2 separate regions of the Homo sapiens genome follow, and region 2 is linked to region 1. Evidence: fine-mapped expression QTL. A gene starts in region 1. The other region holds a variant in brackets. All regions are shown on one strand. Distances are from middle to middle.

Region 1 (8,504 bases):
TTGAGGGGCAACGGCCGGCGCGCCTCAGTCTACACAGCCGATGCTCAGCACCGCATCTCACTCGGAGTAAACGCAAGTCCTTAGTGTGCTGCGCGGTGGTCCTGCCTTTCTCATCGGCCTCTGTCCCTGCGCCCTCCTTCCTCTTTGCGGCTCTTCAACGTGCTAGGCACTCCCCCACTCGCTCCCTCTCCTTTCAGCTCTACTCCGACGTCACTCCTTCCCAGACGACCTTATTATCCACGCGGTACTTCTCGCCCTACAATAAACCCTTTGTTTTGTGCACCTACAATCTCAAATGCCTATTTTGCTTAAGCATTTTCCCCTTTGTTTCCTCGCTGGAACATAAGCTTCCTAAAGAAAGGAACTTTACATAAAACTATCTGGTTTCATTACTGTGCTTCCAGCGCTGTAACTGCCTGGCCAGCGAAGGTATTGAAAGAGTGTTTGCTTAGCGCATGAGTGTGGGAGCTCTGCTTTCCAGGCGGAGGGAACCAGAAGGGCGAAGACCACGGTGGTGAAAACAAGCAAGGCACTTATGCAGAGCAGAAAGACTGCTGGTGGGGAAAGAGGGGATAACTCCAAATCAGGTTGAGGGTTCCCGGGGAGGTGAGGACTTAGGGTTTTGTAGAGTAGGGAAATGATTTGGGATCTTATTTCATATGTAATGTGAAACCTTTGTAAGGTAGTTAGGATTTGAGTGTGTAGGTGAGACAGAAGCAGCGTTGATGTTTGTAAACTTGGGTTGGCAGGGAATGGGGCAAGGATGGACACAAGGAAGCCAATTAAAAGGTGCCAGAGGGCGACACATGCAAGACAGAGAGCGCAAAACAGGGGGCTTTGTTTTGGAGGTAACGCAGTTGCCCCTTGCTGAGGCATTGAAAGTGGAGGGAGAGGCAGACCCACAGAGGACAGTGGAGTGTGAGCTGGAAGGAGTGGGCCTGGCTCATGTGTCTGTCCTCTTCCAGATCCGGGGCTCCCGGGCTCGAGCCCTGCCGGACAGGGCCCTAGTGAACTGTCAATATAGTTCAGCGACCTTCAGCACAGGTGAGCGCAAGCGACGGCCACATGGGGACCGTAAGTCCTGTGAGATGGGCCTGCAGCTCCGCCAGACTTTCGAAGCAGCCATCCTCACACAGCTGCACCCACGCTCCCAGATTGATATCTATGTGCAGGTGAGCCAGCTGCAGCCGTCAATCCAGGGAGGGAAGGGTGTGATGGGGTTGGGGAGGGAGTCTGATAGACTGACACCCTGGGTTCCCTGCAGGTGCTACAGGCAGATGGTGGGACCTATGCAGCTTGTGTGAATGCAGCCACGCTGGCAGTGCTGGATGCCGGGATACCCATGAGAGACTTTGTGTGTGCGTGCTCAGCTGGCTTCGTGGACGGCACAGCCCTGGCGGACCTCAGCCATGTGGAGGAAGCAGCTGGTGGCCCCCAGCTGGCCCTGGCCCTGCTGCCAGCCTCAGGACAGATTGCGCTGCTTGAGATGGATGCCCGGCTGCACGAGGACCACCTGGAGCGGGTGTTGGAGGCTGCTGCCCAGGCTGCCCGAGATGTGCACACCCTCTTAGATCGAGTGGTCCGGCAGCATGTGCGTGAGGCCTCTATCTTGCTGGGGGACTGACCACCCAGCCACCCATGTCCAGAATAAAACCCTCCTCTGCCCACACACCCCTCACTGTACGTTATCACCTAACAGCACTTCAGAGCCATGTGAAGGCTGGCAGAGCCTGGTCTGGTGCTGGCTCCTGGGGATGATTAGGGACCCTCGCCCACACATGAACGGCCTATCTCTGTGTAGCCTGATTCAAACCCTGAAGAGAACAGTGGATTAGGGGGTTTCTGTAGGGGAGGCCCTGGGTGGAAAAAGCAGCATGTCCCAGTAAGGACTCAAGGCAGCTGAGCAGGAGGCAGGGCCTGGCAAGATGAGCCAGGCCATTAGACTGAGGAATCTGTTACCCTTATTCCAGCACATCGGGGGCCCTGAGCAAAGGGCTGAGGAAGAACTCAGCTGGCTCTGGGTACCCACCCTAGGGATGTGGGGGCCATGTCCCACAACCTCTGGACTATGGTTTGGAGCCCCCTGGGCTTTTCCTGCTGCTTACCTTGGGCTCTGAAAGTACAACAGCCAGGCATGGTGGCTCACGCCTGTAATCCCAGAGCTTTGGGAGGCTGAGGCAGGCGGATTGCTTCAGGTCAGGAGTTTGAGACCAGCCTGGCCAACATGGCGAAACCCCGTCTCTACTAAAAATACAAAATTAGCTGGGAGTGGTGGCACATGCCTGTAATCCAAGCTACTCAGGAGGCTGAGACAGGAGAATCTCTTGAACCTGGGAGGCGGAGGTTGCAGTGAGCCGAGATTGTGCCACTGCACTCCAGCCTGGGCGACAGAGCAAGACTCCATCTAAAAAAAAATAAAAGTACAAAAATTACCTGTTCTCATGGATCACTTGAGGTCAGGAGTTCGAGACCAGCCTGGCCAATGTGGTAAAACCCCATCTCTATTAAAGACACAAAAATTAGTGTGGTGGCAGGCACCTGTAATCCCAGCTACTAGGGAGGCTGGGGCAGGAGAATCACTTGAACCAGGAGTTGAAGGTTGCAGTGAGCCAAGATTACACCACTGCACTCCAGCCTGGGTGACAGAGCAAGACTCTGTCTCAAAAAAAAAACAAAAAAAAACTTGTTCTCACATGGAGTCTTCAGCTTTGACCCTTCTCTCTGCCCACCACTATTTTGTTTGTTGAGACATGGTCTTGCTCTGTGCTCAGGCTGGAGTGCAGTGGTGTGATCACGGCTCACTGCAGTCTGGATCTCCCAGGCTCAAGTGATCCTCCCACTTTAGCCTCCTGAGCTGAGACTACAGGCATGCCCCACTCACCTGGCTAATTTAAAAGGAATTTTTTTGTGTGTACAGACTGGGTCTCATTTCGTTGTCCAGGCTGATCTCAAAGGATCCACCCACCTCACCTTCCCAAAGTGCACCCTCTTGAGCAAACTCCCCCTTCATTCACCTCTGGCCCACCGAGCCCCGACTACCAGTCCCTGCAGTCTGGACCCTGGGACTGCTTCTCCCCTAATATTCCACGGATCTCCTGGCCCGGACAGTGACAGTATGATCCCCCACTTTATAATGCACACACCCCAGCTCCAGTGAAGCCCGTTTTGGCCAGTAGTGCCATCAGCATCTTCTCTGCAGTCATCTGACTCTGAAAACCTCGGTGCTGGGCTCACGCTGTGACTCCACTGGGACGTCCTGAGTCATTGGCAGTCTCGCTTGGCATCCATTCTCTGACCGCCGCCGGCTTTCCACCCACCTGCCCGGCTCATCACCTCTGACTCCTGCGGGCCTTCCAGCCGGCGCTATCTCGCAGCCCCCGACCAGCTCGGCCTGCTGTCGGGCATCTCTGCTGTCCTCCGGCTGTAGGGCTACCTGCCTCCCTCCCGGGGGGTGCACTGCGAGTCCGACTCTAGTGGGGGCAGCGCCTAGCGGACTCCCAAACCCGCTCAGGTCCTGCCGGCCTCACCGGCACCGCCCACCCTCCAGCCGGCCGCGGCTCTGCGCTTGCGCGCCGGCAGCACACAGTGTTAGGGGCGCGCCCTCTGCTCTGGACATGCGCGCCGTCGCGAGCGTCTCTGGGACCGGAAGTGCGGGCGAGCGCGGGTCCCCGGGTCTGACAGGAGCAGCCTGTGGGCACCGCGGCGGTAGTTGGAGGCGGGAGAGGGTCCGTAGCCGCGCCGCCCTGCCCCGCCATGGGCCTCCTGTCGGACCCGGTTCGCCGGCGCGCGCTCGCCCGCCTAGTGCTGCGCCTCAACGCGCCGTTGTGGTGAGGACAGGGCCCGGGGAGGCGGGGACCCGAGGGCCCTGGGCTCGCGCCGGCGGCCCCATGCGCGGTCCCCATCGAGGGCCGGGGCCGCTCCAGCTGCTCGCGCCCCTCCGGCTGCTCGCGCCCTTCCGCTCCTGCCCTCTGGAAGCACTGAGGGTATCAGGCCCAGGCTTAGGGCTCGGGTCCGGCGTCCCGATGCAGGACTCCGGGTTTAGGTCTCCCAGACCCGCGCGATCGACCCCGGGTGCGGAGGTTGTGGCCTCGGGTCGGCGTCTGAGGACCCGCTGACGCTCCGGTGCCCCTCCGTCCTCTCTCACAGCGTGCTGAGCTACGTGGCGGGCATCGCCTGGTTCTTGGCGCTGGTTTTCCCGCCGCTGACCCAGCGCACTTACATGTCGGAGAACGCCATGGGCTCCACCATGGTGGAGGAGCAGTTTGCGGGCGGAGACCGTGCCCGGGCTTTTGCCCGGGACTTCGCCGCCCACCGCAAGAAGTCGGGGTGAGCGGCAGAGCAGGGCGTATGGGGCGAGCAGTGGTGGCTAAGGCCGGGGAGCTCTGCTCAGAGGCTCCCTTCGTGTCTGCAGGGCTCTGCCAGTGGCCTGGCTTGAACGGACGATGCGGTCAGTAGGGCTGGAGGTCTACACGCAGAGTTTCTCCCGGAAACTGCCCTTCCCAGATGAGACCCACGAGCGCTATGTACTGGGGGAGTGGGGTGTGCCTGGGCCCAGAAAGCACCTTGGAGGGAGGGGTCTGGGCTGGGTATCACCTTGCGGGGGTGTCATGGGGCCAGGAAGCTCAGTGGGAGGGAAATCCCTGGTGGGCACTGGAGGGCTAGGAAAGTTGTGGGGGGCCCTTCAGCCCCCTACCACAAAGTTACACTGAGGCTCCCCCCACCGATGCTGCATACAGATGGTGTCGGGCACCAACGTGTACGGCATCCTGCGGGCCCCGCGTGCTGCCAGCACCGAGTCGCTTGTGCTCACCGTGCCCTGTGGCTCTGACTCTACCAACAGCCAGGCTGTGGGGCTGCTGCTGGCACTGGCTGCCCACTTCCGGGGTGAGTCTCAGGGCTGCTGGCCGTGGAGGGGTTTGGTCAGTGCCCCAGACCCTGCTGATCCTGCTTCTGGCCTCCAGGGCAGATTTATTGGGCCAAAGATATCGTCTTCCTGGTAACAGAACATGACCTTCTGGGCACTGAGGCTTGGCTTGAAGCCTACCACGATGTCAATGTCACTGGTAGGTTCTCTTGTCCTGCCTGCCCTGGTCCCCCTCTCAGGGTCACTGTCCTCACCACGTCCTCCATTAGCACTCATTCACTTGCTCCTACAGGCATGCAGTCGTCTCCCCTGCAGGGCCGAGCTGGGGCCATTCAGGCAGCCGTGGCCCTGGAGCTGAGCAGTGATGTGGTCACCAGCCTCGATGTGGCCGTGGAGGGGCTTAACGGGCAGCTGCCCAACCTTGACCTGCTCAATCTCTTCCAGACCTTCTGCCAGAAAGGGGGCCTGTTGTGCACGCTTCAGGGCAAGGTGGGGCTGCCTGCCTGCCTGAGGGCTGAAGGGCACAGGGTCTGTGGGAGGGGCTGTCTCATCCTGTCCTGCACCTCTAAAGCTGCAGCCCGAGGACTGGACATCATTGGATGGACCGCTGCAGGGCCTGCAGACACTGCTGCTCATGGTTCTGCGGCAGGCCTCCGGCCGCCCCCACGGCTCCCATGGCCTCTTCCTGCGCTACCGTGTGGAGGCCCTAACCCTGCGTGGCATCAATAGCTTCCGCCAGTACAAGTATGACCTGGTGGCAGTGGGCAAGTAAGTAGTCTCTGGTCCCCCCTTTCCATGCCCAGGATGGGGTCTAGCTGGAGCGGAGTGGGGGATGGCCTGGTGGCTCTGGCCAGCCGTGAACCTGCCCCACACCTGACAGGGCTTTGGAGGGCATGTTCCGCAAGCTCAACCACCTCCTGGAGCGCCTGCACCAGTCCTTCTTCCTCTACTTGCTCCCCGGCCTCTCCCGCTTCGTCTCCATCGGCCTCTACATGCCCGCTGTCGGCTTCTTGCTCCTGGTCCTTGGTCTCAAGATATCCTCTGCCCCTTGCCATCTACCTGTGACCAGCCTCCAGTCTCCTCAACTCTAGGCTGGGGAGAGTCTTCCATCCTGATGGGGGGTGGGGTACGGGGGTGAGCCCTGGGTCCCCCTCTGGGCAGATCCCGTTACACCTCTTGTTGGGGTCCTTGATTGGGCTACGCTCTGGAACTGTGGATGCAGCTGCATGAGGCTGGAATGGGCCTTGAGGAGCCCGGGGGTGCCCCTGGCCCCAGTGTACCCCTTCCCCCATCACAGGTGATGGCACCCCCTTCTGTTGTTGGAATGGGCTTCTGGGGTCTGACTGGTGTTTAGTGTTGCAACTTAGCCTCAGCTGGTGGGATGGTGGTGGTCTTTGGGGATCCCCTGGCCCCAGGGTCCATCTCCAAGAGCCTGTGTGCCCTGCAGGGTGTGGGGCTGGCCTCGCTCGTGGCACCTCTGCTGATCTCACAGGCCATGGGACTGGCCCTCTATGTCCTGCCAGTGCTGGGCCAACACGTTGCCACCCAGCACTTCCCAGTGGCAGAGGCTGAGGCTGTGGTGCTGACACTGCTGGCGATTTATGCAGCTGGCCTGGCCCTGCCCCACAATACCCACCGGTAAGAGGCTGGGCTGGTTGTTGGGGGCAGGGGTAGAGGTCCCCTGGACATGCAGACAGCTTGTGGGTTGCCTCTGAGTCCTTTGTCTTACAGGGTGGTAAGCACACAGGCCCCAGACAGGGGCTGGATGGCACTGAAGCTGGTAGCCCTGATCTACCTAGCACTGCAGCTGGGCTGCATCGCCCTCACCAACTTCTCACTGGGCTTCCTGCTGGCCACCACCATGGTGCCCACTGCTGCGCTTGCCAAGCCTCATGGGCCCCGGTATGTATGGATCAGCCCCACTTCCCCCAATGCCTGTGCCCTCATCACAGACCGCACCCTCATTCAGTAGCCCTTTCCCCCAACCTGGTGCCCATGCCCCCACCATGGAGCCTACCTTGATGTTGCTTCTCCACCCAGGACCCTCTATGCTGCCCTGCTGGTGCTGACCAGCCCGGCAGCCACGCTCCTTGGCAGCCTGTTCCTGTGGCGGGAGCTGCAGGAGGCGCCACTGTCACTGGCCGAGGGCTGGCAGCTCTTCCTGGCAGCGCTAGCCCAGGGTGTGCTGGAGCACCACACCTACGGCGCCCTGCTCTTCCCACTGCTGTCCCTGGGCCTCTACCCCTGCTGGCTGCTTTTCTGGAATGTGCTCTTCTGGAAGTGAGATCTGCCTGTCCGGGCTGGGACAGAGACTCCCCAAGGACCCCATTCTGCCTCCTTCTGGGGAAATAAATGAGTGTCTGTTTCAGCAGCTATTTGAGCTCCTGGCCCGCTGTCCGTGTAGGGCCCCAGGGCATGGGGGTGAGAAGCCTCTGTCTGCAGGGCTTGGCATTCCTCACACCTCCTCCCTGGCAAGGGCTGCTGTAGTCCACTTACTGGGTAGCATTCCTGCCGACCAGGGCTCTGCTGCTGCATCAGGTGCACTCTCAGCCCTGGCGGGTGCCATGCAGGCTCAGAGGGCTGTGTGCATTGCTCTGTGGTACTGTGCCAGGAGCGGTGCTGGGAAGGAGAATACACCATAGCCATGGTTTGAGGGCCTGCCAGGAGCTGAGGCACCCAGAAACCACCTAACACCATCTTTACTGCTAGGACTGAGGCTGGAGCTGGAGCCCTGCAGAGGAGGCCCAGGGTGCATGGCATGGGGCCCAGGCAAGGCCATCGCCTTGGTGTGGGATTGGGATGGAGCAGGGAGGAGCACCCGGCCTGGCTTCCTCAGAGTTGAGTCAGCCCAGGTGAGATGCCCACGAGGGGCTGGGCAGGCAACACAGTGGAGCCAGGACCCAGGGGCAGGCGGGGCACGGGGACAAGAGCCCCACGGGAGAGGGCACTGACAGGCCAGCAAGGAGAGAAGCAGGCTGTTATACTAGGACTCTGAAAGGAACTGGGAAGACCACTGTCTGTTCCAAAAGAAAGGAAAAACCTGTGGCCTTTAGGTGATGCCAGGGCCATGTCAGGGACCTTGGTGCTGCGGCTAGAGAGCCCTCTGGTCACAGGAAGGCAAAGGTGCCGCAGCCACACAAAACCATGCACAGGCCTCAGGAATCAGAGCCGTGCTGCCTGGAGAAGCCACAGCATCTTAGAATCAACTGAGGGCCAGGGTCCTTTCAGTACAGTGTCCCCAAATGGCCTGTTGTCTGGGAGGTTCCAAGGAGGGTGCCCTCCCTGTGCCCTACTCTGTAGGCCACTGCCTCTTCACTGGGTTATGTCTTCCTGCGGGAGGCTCCCCTTGACATGAGACCCCTGGTGTTGGGGGTTAGTCTATTGATGGGGCTCCACAGTTGGGGGATGGGTGGAGGGCTCCCAGGGTGAGCACCTAGGCGACTTCCAGAGTTTCTGCAGAGGAAACACATGTCTGCTGGGTGGGCTTACGTTCTCTGTGTCCAGCATTATTCGAGGCTTAGTGGGGATGAGGGGGTATCAGGAACCCCACTGTGACTGGTAGCCTCATAATTAACTTGCCTGTCTTCAGCCCCCTTGTCCCAGAGGTTGGAGTCTCTAGTCACTTTCTCCAGTGAATACT
Region 2 (8,008 bases), 23 kb after region 1:
CACTGCAGAACTCTGTCTTAAGCAGGAGGTATCTGAGTCTGTCACTCTCCCACTCCTGTCACTCTCCTGCTGCTCTTGGGATGATGTCTTCTCACACAGGTCCTGACCCTGCCTGCTCTGCCTCTTCATGCTTGCCTCTCATCCTTCCTGAGGGTTAAGGAAGTGCAGGCTGAGGTTCCAGGGCTTCCTGGTGGAGGCTGCAACTTGTGCTGGCTGGGGCCTCAGATGGTGTAGGAGACTGACTCCAGCAGCCACTCCAAGTACTCCAAGCTACTCCAGGCTCCACCTACTCCCTCCTGGAAGCCTTCCCAGACATCCAGCAGTGGGGAAGGTGGATCCAACTTCCCCAACCAGGACTGGGGGGCCAAGGCTATTCCAAATTGTAATTGTATCCATTACAGGGCACTGACCATTCTGTCCTTCCACGGTGGCACCTCGGACTAGGACTGCCCACCGCTGAGCTTCCTGAGGGTTGAGGAAGTGCAGGCTGAGGGTTCCAGGCCCTCCTGGTGGAGGCTGTAGCTCGTGCTGGGTGGGGCCTCGGATGGTGTAGGAAACTGACTCCAGGGGCCACTCCAAATTAACCTGAGAAGAGGGAGAGTCCAGGCTCAGGGCGTCCCCCCGCCCTACATCGCACGAGGAGCAAAGAAATACAAGGTAACATTTATAGACCATTTACACGGTCCTAAGCCCTGTACGCCTATCATCAAATCCTCACAATAGCCCTGTAAAGTAGGTCCAGGTAGGTCCCAGTAGGTCCGAGCGTCACCCCCATTTCACGGACGAGAAAACAGAAGCAAAGAAACATAACTGCTTAAGGGCACCCAGGTGGCAAGCGGAGGGGCCTAACTTTGGGCTCCGTGCCCTGCCCGGGCCAAGAGGACTGACCGCGCGCCCTCCGCCCCCACTCACCGCCCCAGGTCCCGCGCCCAGCAGCTCCAGCCGGAAGCGCCCAGGCCGCTCAGGGTCCGCGCTCAGCTGCAGCCTCCGCAGCTGTGCCTCGGCGTCTGGCCCGGCGCCCAGCGGCCTCACCGCGGCGTGCACAGCCAAGAGCACTGCGGCGGAGCCCAAGTCCGAGGCCGCCGCCGCCGCCCCGCCCGCTGGCGGCGCCATCTCCGGTCCGGCCGGGTCCCACCCCTCCGAGCGCGCTTCCGTGGGATCGGGCCGCTGAGCCCCCTCCGCCGGTCGGAAACACGGGCCGCGAACCTGGGGTTCCGGGCGCGCCCAGAGCGTCGGGCCTGGGACGGCGCCGAGTGGTGCACTCTGGCCAAGCCTGCCCCGCTGGCTTTGCCCACAAATGGACACGGCCCGAGGGTCTCCGGACACCGGCTGGGCGAGGCTGGCGGCGTGTACGAGGCTGGGGCAGGGCGGCCGAGGCGCTCACGTTAGAGCTGGTCTTTGGGGGCGAAGGGTCAGGGGGCGAAGCACCGGCCACAACTGAAGGCGGACGCGGCCTCTTCGCCCCAGGGGCTCGGCGGACGTAGATGCATCCAGCGTGCGACTATCCCAGCGCCTAACGGCAGCTGGACTTCGCTCCCGGGACCTCCAATGGGCTGCCACCTTCGCCCGCAGACCCCAGCCCCCGCCACGCCCACACGTCGCACTAGGTTGGCCCGCGCCTCACTGGTTACGGGGTCGACCCCCCTAGGGGGCGGAGCTAGAGAGGCCACGGCCAATGAACGCCGGGGGTAAGCGGGTTAGTACGACGAGAAGAGTGACAGACAGGCTCCATAACCAGTAGACGTAGAAGGCAGAACTGAGTGGCGGGTACGGCACCCGATGGCTATTCGAGCTCTCGATCTCGGAGACTGGAGCGGGCCATTCAGAGGCGCGGGGCCGGGCCCGGCGGACGCTTGTTGTTGTCCGGCCGGGGGAGGCGGAGGTCGCTCGCTCGCTCGCTCGGCTCGCTGACTCGCCGGAGCGCTCTGTGGCGGTCGGCGGCAGGTCGGTCGCGAGAGCGGGCTCTGTGGAAGGGGGCGAGGCTATGTCGCGGTGGCAGCCCGGATGGGCCGGCAGGGCCGGGAGTAACGGGACGTCGCCGCGGAGCTTCTTCCCCCGGATACAGTGCGGCCCGAGCGGAGGCCGCGGCGCCGCCCTCCGATCTTGAAGAGCCCGCGCTGCGCGGAGCCCGCCCCCGCCTGCGCACCGGCACCGACGCGGAGCGACCCAGCCCAGCCAGACCCGGCCCGGCGCGGCCTGATCTAACCCAGCCAGGCAGGTGGGTGTCCGCCCTGCGTCCCGCGCCGTCTGCGTACCCGGAACCACAGCCCCCAGCAGGCCTCGCGCGGCGCGCTGCCTCCTGGGATTTGTAGTTCCACCGCGGCTTGGCTGGTGCCCGACGTGGCCCAGGCGGGCGCTGCCTGGTGACTGCAGCGCCCCAGCGGGGCCGAGGGACCGCCCTCCTAGGCGTCTGGAGAAACTAGGCAATTTTTCCGGGTAGAGTGGAGGAACCTGTAGTTTTCCTCTCCCCGGGCCAGAAAGTAGCCAAAACGAAAGAGCGCCCGCCCAGGTGACCGCAGGGCCCGGAGTCCCAGGTGTCCTGGTTCCTAACCGGGATGCAGCCTCTTACCTTGGCTGAGGAGCCCAGCCAGCCTGAGGGAGACTGCAGGAGTCACGTCCCGTTGCGGACTCAAGAGTTACCCCCATGGTGGCTGGAGCTCTTTTGGAGTGGGCGTGGAGATGGGGAATGGGAATGTTGAGCAACAATCTCAGCCAGCAGCCCCAGGGTGAGCAGGGTCCCCGGTGGTCTAGTCTAGTCCCAGAACTCGCGTGTTCTGCAGGGGGTATGGCTGACCTGGAGCCTGGACTTACCACCCTCAGGTAAAACAGGATCTCTGTCACCTCTCCTGGCCGGGCAGAGAGGGGAGCTCCTGATGTGCAGCCTGGACAGAGGCCAGACTCAGCTTGTTCCTAGCGGCTCCACTTAGTGGGTAGGAGGGCTGAAGGCAGGGCCCCAAGGGGCCAGATAGATACCCATGGTCTGGTCTCTCACTCCCCAGGCAATACTAGCCCCTCTGGAGCACGGAGCTCCTTCCCCAAAGACATGAAGCTATTGGAGAACTCGAGCTTTGAAGCCATCAACTCACAGCTGACTGTGGAGACTGGAGATGCCCACATCATTGGCAGGTGAGGCAGGCTGGGGGGGCTGGCATCTCGGAGGTCACACTGCCGCGCCCTTCAGTGGAACCTGGGGGAAGCATGCTTCATGGTTCTCTCTGCATCCTATAGGATTGAGAGCTACTCATGTAAGATGGCAGGAGACGACAAACACATGTTCAAGCAGTTCTGCCAGGAGGGCCAGCCCCACGTGCTGGAGGCACTTTCTCCACCCCAGACTTCAGGACTGAGCCCCAGCAGGTGAGCCATGGTGGGGCCTACCTGGGGCTGGGGGTTGAGGGGAGGTGATGGGCCCAGCTGATGGTTCTGTCTGTGCAGACTCAGCAAAAGCCAAGGCGGTGAGGAGGAGGGCCCCCTCAGTGACAAGTGCAGCCGCAAGACCCTCTTCTACCTGATTGCCACGCTCAATGAGTCCTTCAGGCCTGACTATGACTTCAGCACAGCCCGCAGCCATGAGTTCAGCCGGGAGCCCAGCCTTAGCTGGGTGAGGGTCAGGTGGAGGGAAGGGACCCACAGCCACCCCACTGTCCTTCCCCACTTTGGGTAGCCCTGGGCTCCTGTCACCCTGACTGTGACCTGCCCTAGGTGGTGAATGCAGTCAACTGCAGTCTGTTCTCAGCTGTGCGGGAGGACTTCAAGGATCTGAAACCACAGCTGTGGAACGCGGTGGACGAGGAGATCTGCCTGGCTGAATGTGACATCTACAGGTGGGCCGGCATCCCTGCAGATGGCCTCCAGGCCTCCAGGTTTGTGGGGCACTTGGCGCCTCACACCACCTGTCACCCTATACTCCCCAGCTATAACCCAGACTTGGACTCAGATCCCTTCGGGGAGGATGGTAGCCTCTGGTCCTTCAACTACTTCTTCTACAACAAGCGGCTCAAGCGAATCGTCTTCTTTAGCTGCCGTTCCATCAGGTGGGCACCCCCCGCCTCCTCCCCCACCTCCCTGTTGGGCCGATACAACTTCCCCAGCTGTGCCATCTCCACCCAGCTTTGCCCTCCCTGAACATCCTCCCTGGGGCCAGCAGCAGGCCTGGGTAGGGGTCCTGAAACTGGTTTCCCTGCCTCCCCTCAGTGGCTCCACCTACACACCCTCAGAGGCAGGCAACGAGCTGGACATGGAGCTGGGGGAGGAGGAGGTGGAGGAAGAAAGCAGAAGCGGGGGCAGTGGGGCCGAGGAGACCAGCACCATGGAGGAGGACAGGTGTGTGATGGGGGCCATGACCCGGGTCCTTGAAGCCTGGAGTGGGTACAACAGGGTGGGGGCCTCCTCTACTTGGTCTAAGTGGTGGCTCCTGAAGGCCCACTGTGTGCCAACCTCCGCCCAGGGTCCCAGTGATCTGTATTTGATGAGGAGGAGCCGAGGCCCCAGCTTCATCCAGCTTCAACCAATGCCTGGACCTGTCCACCTGAGAGGCCCCTGGGGCCTCCCCAGCTGCTGGCCAGACCCTGGCGCTGCCACAGTCCTGGCACTGCCCAAGGCCATACCTGCCTAGCCCTTTGGCTCCATCCTGTGGATGCCCACTCACCCCTCAGACTCCTGCTGCCCATGCTGTGGCCGGACTTGTCAGCAGGGGGCCTGGTGGGAGGAGCGACTGCCCTGCCCAAATGAACTGCCACAG[C/A]AGGGACAGCTGGACCGCAGAGTTTATTTTTGTATTTCTACTGGGCCTGCACACTCCAGCCCAAAGGGTCTGTGGCCGGAGGCCCCACGAGCAGGCCCCAGCAGTCACCGGCTCTGGTCTTGGGCCGGCCCCGGTGCCCACCTGTACCCCCACCTCGCCCATTTGGCCGCGTGCACTGAGTGTCACTTTGCTGCAGCTCGTTTCTTTCCAATAAAAGTTTCTGTGACTTAGTGTGGACCTGATGCGGTGTGGGGGTGGGGCCTGCGGTGTGGGAGTGGCCGGCGGCATCTGGTATCCTAGCAACTGCCGCTGCGGGCCGTGACCGCTAAGTCCTGGGAGCTGTTGGGCTCTGGGACCGCAGTTGCTGAAATGGAGGCAGAGGTGTGGGAGGCAGAAGGCTACAACCTAGTTCTGGACTCGGACCTGTATGATGCGGATGGCTATGATGTCCCAGACCCTGGGCTGCTCACCGAAAAGAATGGTGAGGGGGCCTGGCCTCGCCCTCCGGGCATCCCGCTAGGAAGTGGGTCTCATTCGGGCTTGGGTTCCGTCCCCTGGAACAAAACTCCCCTGGGCAGTCCCTGGTAGGGCAGGGCCCCTGGAGGAGGGCTCCCCATAACCGTCAGGGTCGAGGACCTGAGGCTGTAGGTGGCAGAACTTCCAGTTCCTGCCCGCAGAGTTGACTTTCACGGAGCCGTCGCAGGTCCTGCCCTTTTTGACCAGCAGCCAACAGTGGCAAAGCCTGACCCCGCGCGCCCGCGCCCGCCGGCTGTGGCTGCTTCTGCGCACCAGCCTCCACGAAGTCGTGGAAAAGGTGCGGTGTGCCTGTCCTGCGCCTCCTGGCCTCTTTCCGGATCTGGGCCTTCCCTTAGGGGTCCCCTAGGCCGGAGTAGCCCCAACCTTTGATTGCGGGCCCGCCCACCCCGGCCCACAGGAGAAGAGAGCCGAGCTGCGCGCGGCGCGCCTGACGCATGGGCTGGAACCACTGCGCCGCCTGGAGGTGGCAGCCGGGCTGCGCTCGGTGGCGCAGGACCCGGTGGGTGGACGCTTCGTGGTGCTGGACGGCGCGGGCCGCCTGCACCTGCACAAGGAAGACGGCTGGGCACAGGAGACGCTGCTGGCGCCTGTCCGGCTTACGGGGCTGGTGACCGTGCTGGGCCCGCTGGGTGCCGTGGGCCGTTTTGTAGGCTGGGGCCCCGCGGGGCTGGCAATTCTGAGGCCCAACCTCAGCCTGCTGTGGCTGAGCGAGCAGGGGGTGGGCAGGGCCCCGGGTTGGGCGCCCACCTGCTGCCTGCCGGTTCCCGACCTCAGGCTGCTGCTCGTTGCGGAGATGAACAGCAGCCTGGCGCTCTGGCAGTTCCGTTCAGGTGGTCGCCGCCTGGTGCTGCGAGGGTCAGCACTGCACCCGCCCCCGAGCCCAACAGGCAGGCTCATGCGTCTGGCTGTGGCGCCGGTTCCTCCCCACCACGTCCTGCGCTGCTTCGCGGCCTATGGCTCGGCCGTGCTCACCTTCGATCTGCATGCCTGGACTCTCGTAGATGTGCGCCGGGATTTGCACAAAACGTGAGGGGGATCCCCCTAGGGAGGGCCAGGCATGTAGGGGCACACGGCCCTCACACACAAGGCGATGTTAAGTCCATTGGGATTCTCCCATTCCCCACCTGTAGCACCATCTCGGACCTGGCTTACTGCGAGGAAGTAGAGGCAATGGTGACAGCTTCCCGGGACAGCACCGTGAAGGTGTGGGAGGCTGACTGGCAGATCCGGATGGTGTTCGTGGGCCACACAGGTGCTCTGAGTTCTCTGCACCCCGAGCCTCGGCCCTTTGCCTCCAGCCGCTCTAGGCTGTCCAGCATCTCCGCAGCTCCGGCCAGGCCTTGCTGCGCTGACTGCAACACAGGCTGAAGGCTCCCCTGCCTTCAGTCGGCCGAGTGACCTGCACCCCTCCCACAGGCCCGGTGACGGCTATGACTGTGCTCCCGAACACGACCCTGGTGTTGTCGGCCTCGCAGGACGGGACGCTACGCACCTGGGACCTGCAGGCGGCGGCGCAGGTGGGCGAGGTAGCGCTGGGCTTCTGGGGCCAGGACAAGCTGTCCCGGCGCGTGGGCCGTCTGCTGGCGCCGGTGCGCCCGGGCTGGCCGGTGCTGTCCCTGTGCGCGAGCAGCATGCAGCTGTGGCGCGTACGCGAGCTCTACTCGCCGTTGGCGCAACTGCCCGCCAAGGTGCTCCACGTGCAGGTGGCGCCCGCGTTGCCCGCGCCTGCGCACCAGTCGCTGCCTACGCGCCTCGTGTGCGCGTGCGCCGACGGCTCGGTCTACCTCCTGTCGGCGGCCACCGGGCGCATAGTGAGCTCACTGCTGCTGGAGCCGGAGGACTGCGCGGCAGCCGTGGCCTACTGCCTGCCGCGCGAGGCGCTGTGGCTGCTGACCAGGGCTGGGCACCTGGTCCGCGCCAACGCGGCGCGCTGCCCCATGAGCGTGCTGCACCGCGTGTGCCCGCCGCCGCCCCCTGCGCCGCAGCCTTGCTGTCTGCACCTGTACAGCCACCTCACGGATCTCGAAGGCGCCTTCTCCTCCTGGGAGATCGTGCGCCAGCACTGGGGCGAGTTGCGCTGCAGCTCTGTGGCCTGCGCCTGGAAGAACAAGAACCGGTGGGTGCGGGAGCCGGCGAGGGTCTGGCGGGCGGAAGGAGCGGCAGGGTCCGCGCCAACAGGCTCTTCCCACTCGCAGGTACCTGCCAGTGGTGGGGCACACGGACGGCACGCTGTCGGTGCTGGAGTGGCTCTCGTCGAAGACTGTCTTCCAAACGGAGGCGCACAGCCCGGGCCCGGTTGTCGCCATCGCATCCACCTGGAACAGCATTGTGTCTTCGGGTCAGTAGCTCCCCTGCCAAAGGCCAGGCCGCCACAGAGCCCCCTCCCCTCCGACAAGGCCCAGCCAGATTCCGCTGCCCACAGGTGGGGACCTGACGGTGAAGATGTGGCGCGTCTTCCCCTATGCCGAAGAGAGCCTGAGCCTGCTGCGCACCTTCTCCTGCTGCTACCCGGCCGTGGCGCTCTGTGCGCTAGGCAGACGCGTCACCGCGGGCTTTGAGGACCCAGACAGCGCTACCTACGGCCTGGTGCAGTTTGGCCTGGGCGACAGTCCGCGATTAGACCACCGGCCCCAGGACGACCCCACGGACCACATCACTGGTGAGGGGGCAGCATGGGTGAAGCCCAGCCACCGCCCAGCTCCGGTTCCTGACCCTGAACCCTGCCGCCAG

What was found.
Region 2: its variant is fine-mapped to the expression of GPAA1 in whole blood (TOPMed, PIP 0.91).

Annotation. Positions count from the first base shown.
Region 1 is chr8:144,078,978-144,087,481 of GRCh38, forward strand. It overlaps GPAA1 (glycosylphosphatidylinositol anchor attachment 1), which reads left to right and starts at 3,657. Exons shown (of 12, transcript NM_003801.4): 1 at 3,657-3,827; 2 at 4,147-4,326; 3 at 4,412-4,523; 4 at 4,737-4,884; 5 at 4,962-5,063; 6 at 5,157-5,353; 7 at 5,436-5,632; 8 at 5,745-5,898; 9 at 6,066-6,161; 10 at 6,312-6,502; 11 at 6,596-6,766; 12 at 6,905-7,239. The coding sequence starts at 3,754. The coding sequence ends at 7,148. EXOSC4 (exosome component 4) reads left to right here. Exons shown (of 3, transcript NM_019037.3): 2 at 966-1,172; 3 at 1,265-1,671. The coding sequence ends at 1,624. MIR6847 (microRNA 6847) reads left to right here and starts at 897; the gene lies at 897-965. It overlaps LOC124902038 (a long non-coding RNA gene), which reads right to left and starts at 3,590. Exons shown (of 2, transcript XR_007061141.1): 1 at 3,144-3,590; 2 at 1-2,404. RefSeq lists a silencer at 3,739-3,988.
Region 2 is chr8:144,102,641-144,110,648 of GRCh38, forward strand. It overlaps SHARPIN (SHANK associated RH domain interactor), which reads right to left and starts at 1,133. Exons shown (of 9, transcript NM_030974.4): 1 at 913-1,133; 2 at 411-585. The coding sequence starts at 1,113. MAF1 (MAF1 negative regulator of RNA polymerase III) reads left to right here and starts at 1,821. Exons shown (of 8, transcript NM_032272.5): 1 at 1,821-2,218; 2 at 3,000-3,126; 3 at 3,229-3,357; 4 at 3,436-3,601; 5 at 3,703-3,824; 6 at 3,915-4,034; 7 at 4,195-4,323; 8 at 4,448-4,971. The coding sequence starts at 3,044. The coding sequence ends at 4,469. WDR97 (WD repeat domain 97) reads left to right here and starts at 5,099. Exons shown (of 24, transcript NM_001316309.2): 1 at 5,099-5,222; 2 at 5,419-5,555; 3 at 5,676-6,304; 4 at 6,409-6,530; 5 at 6,695-7,394; 6 at 7,474-7,616; 7 at 7,701-7,937. The coding sequence starts at 5,111. RefSeq lists silencers at 875-974, 985-1,264, 2,025-2,264 and enhancers at 1,325-1,374, 2,126-2,420, 6,042-6,572. The variant C/A (reference allele first, on the strand shown) is at 4,742.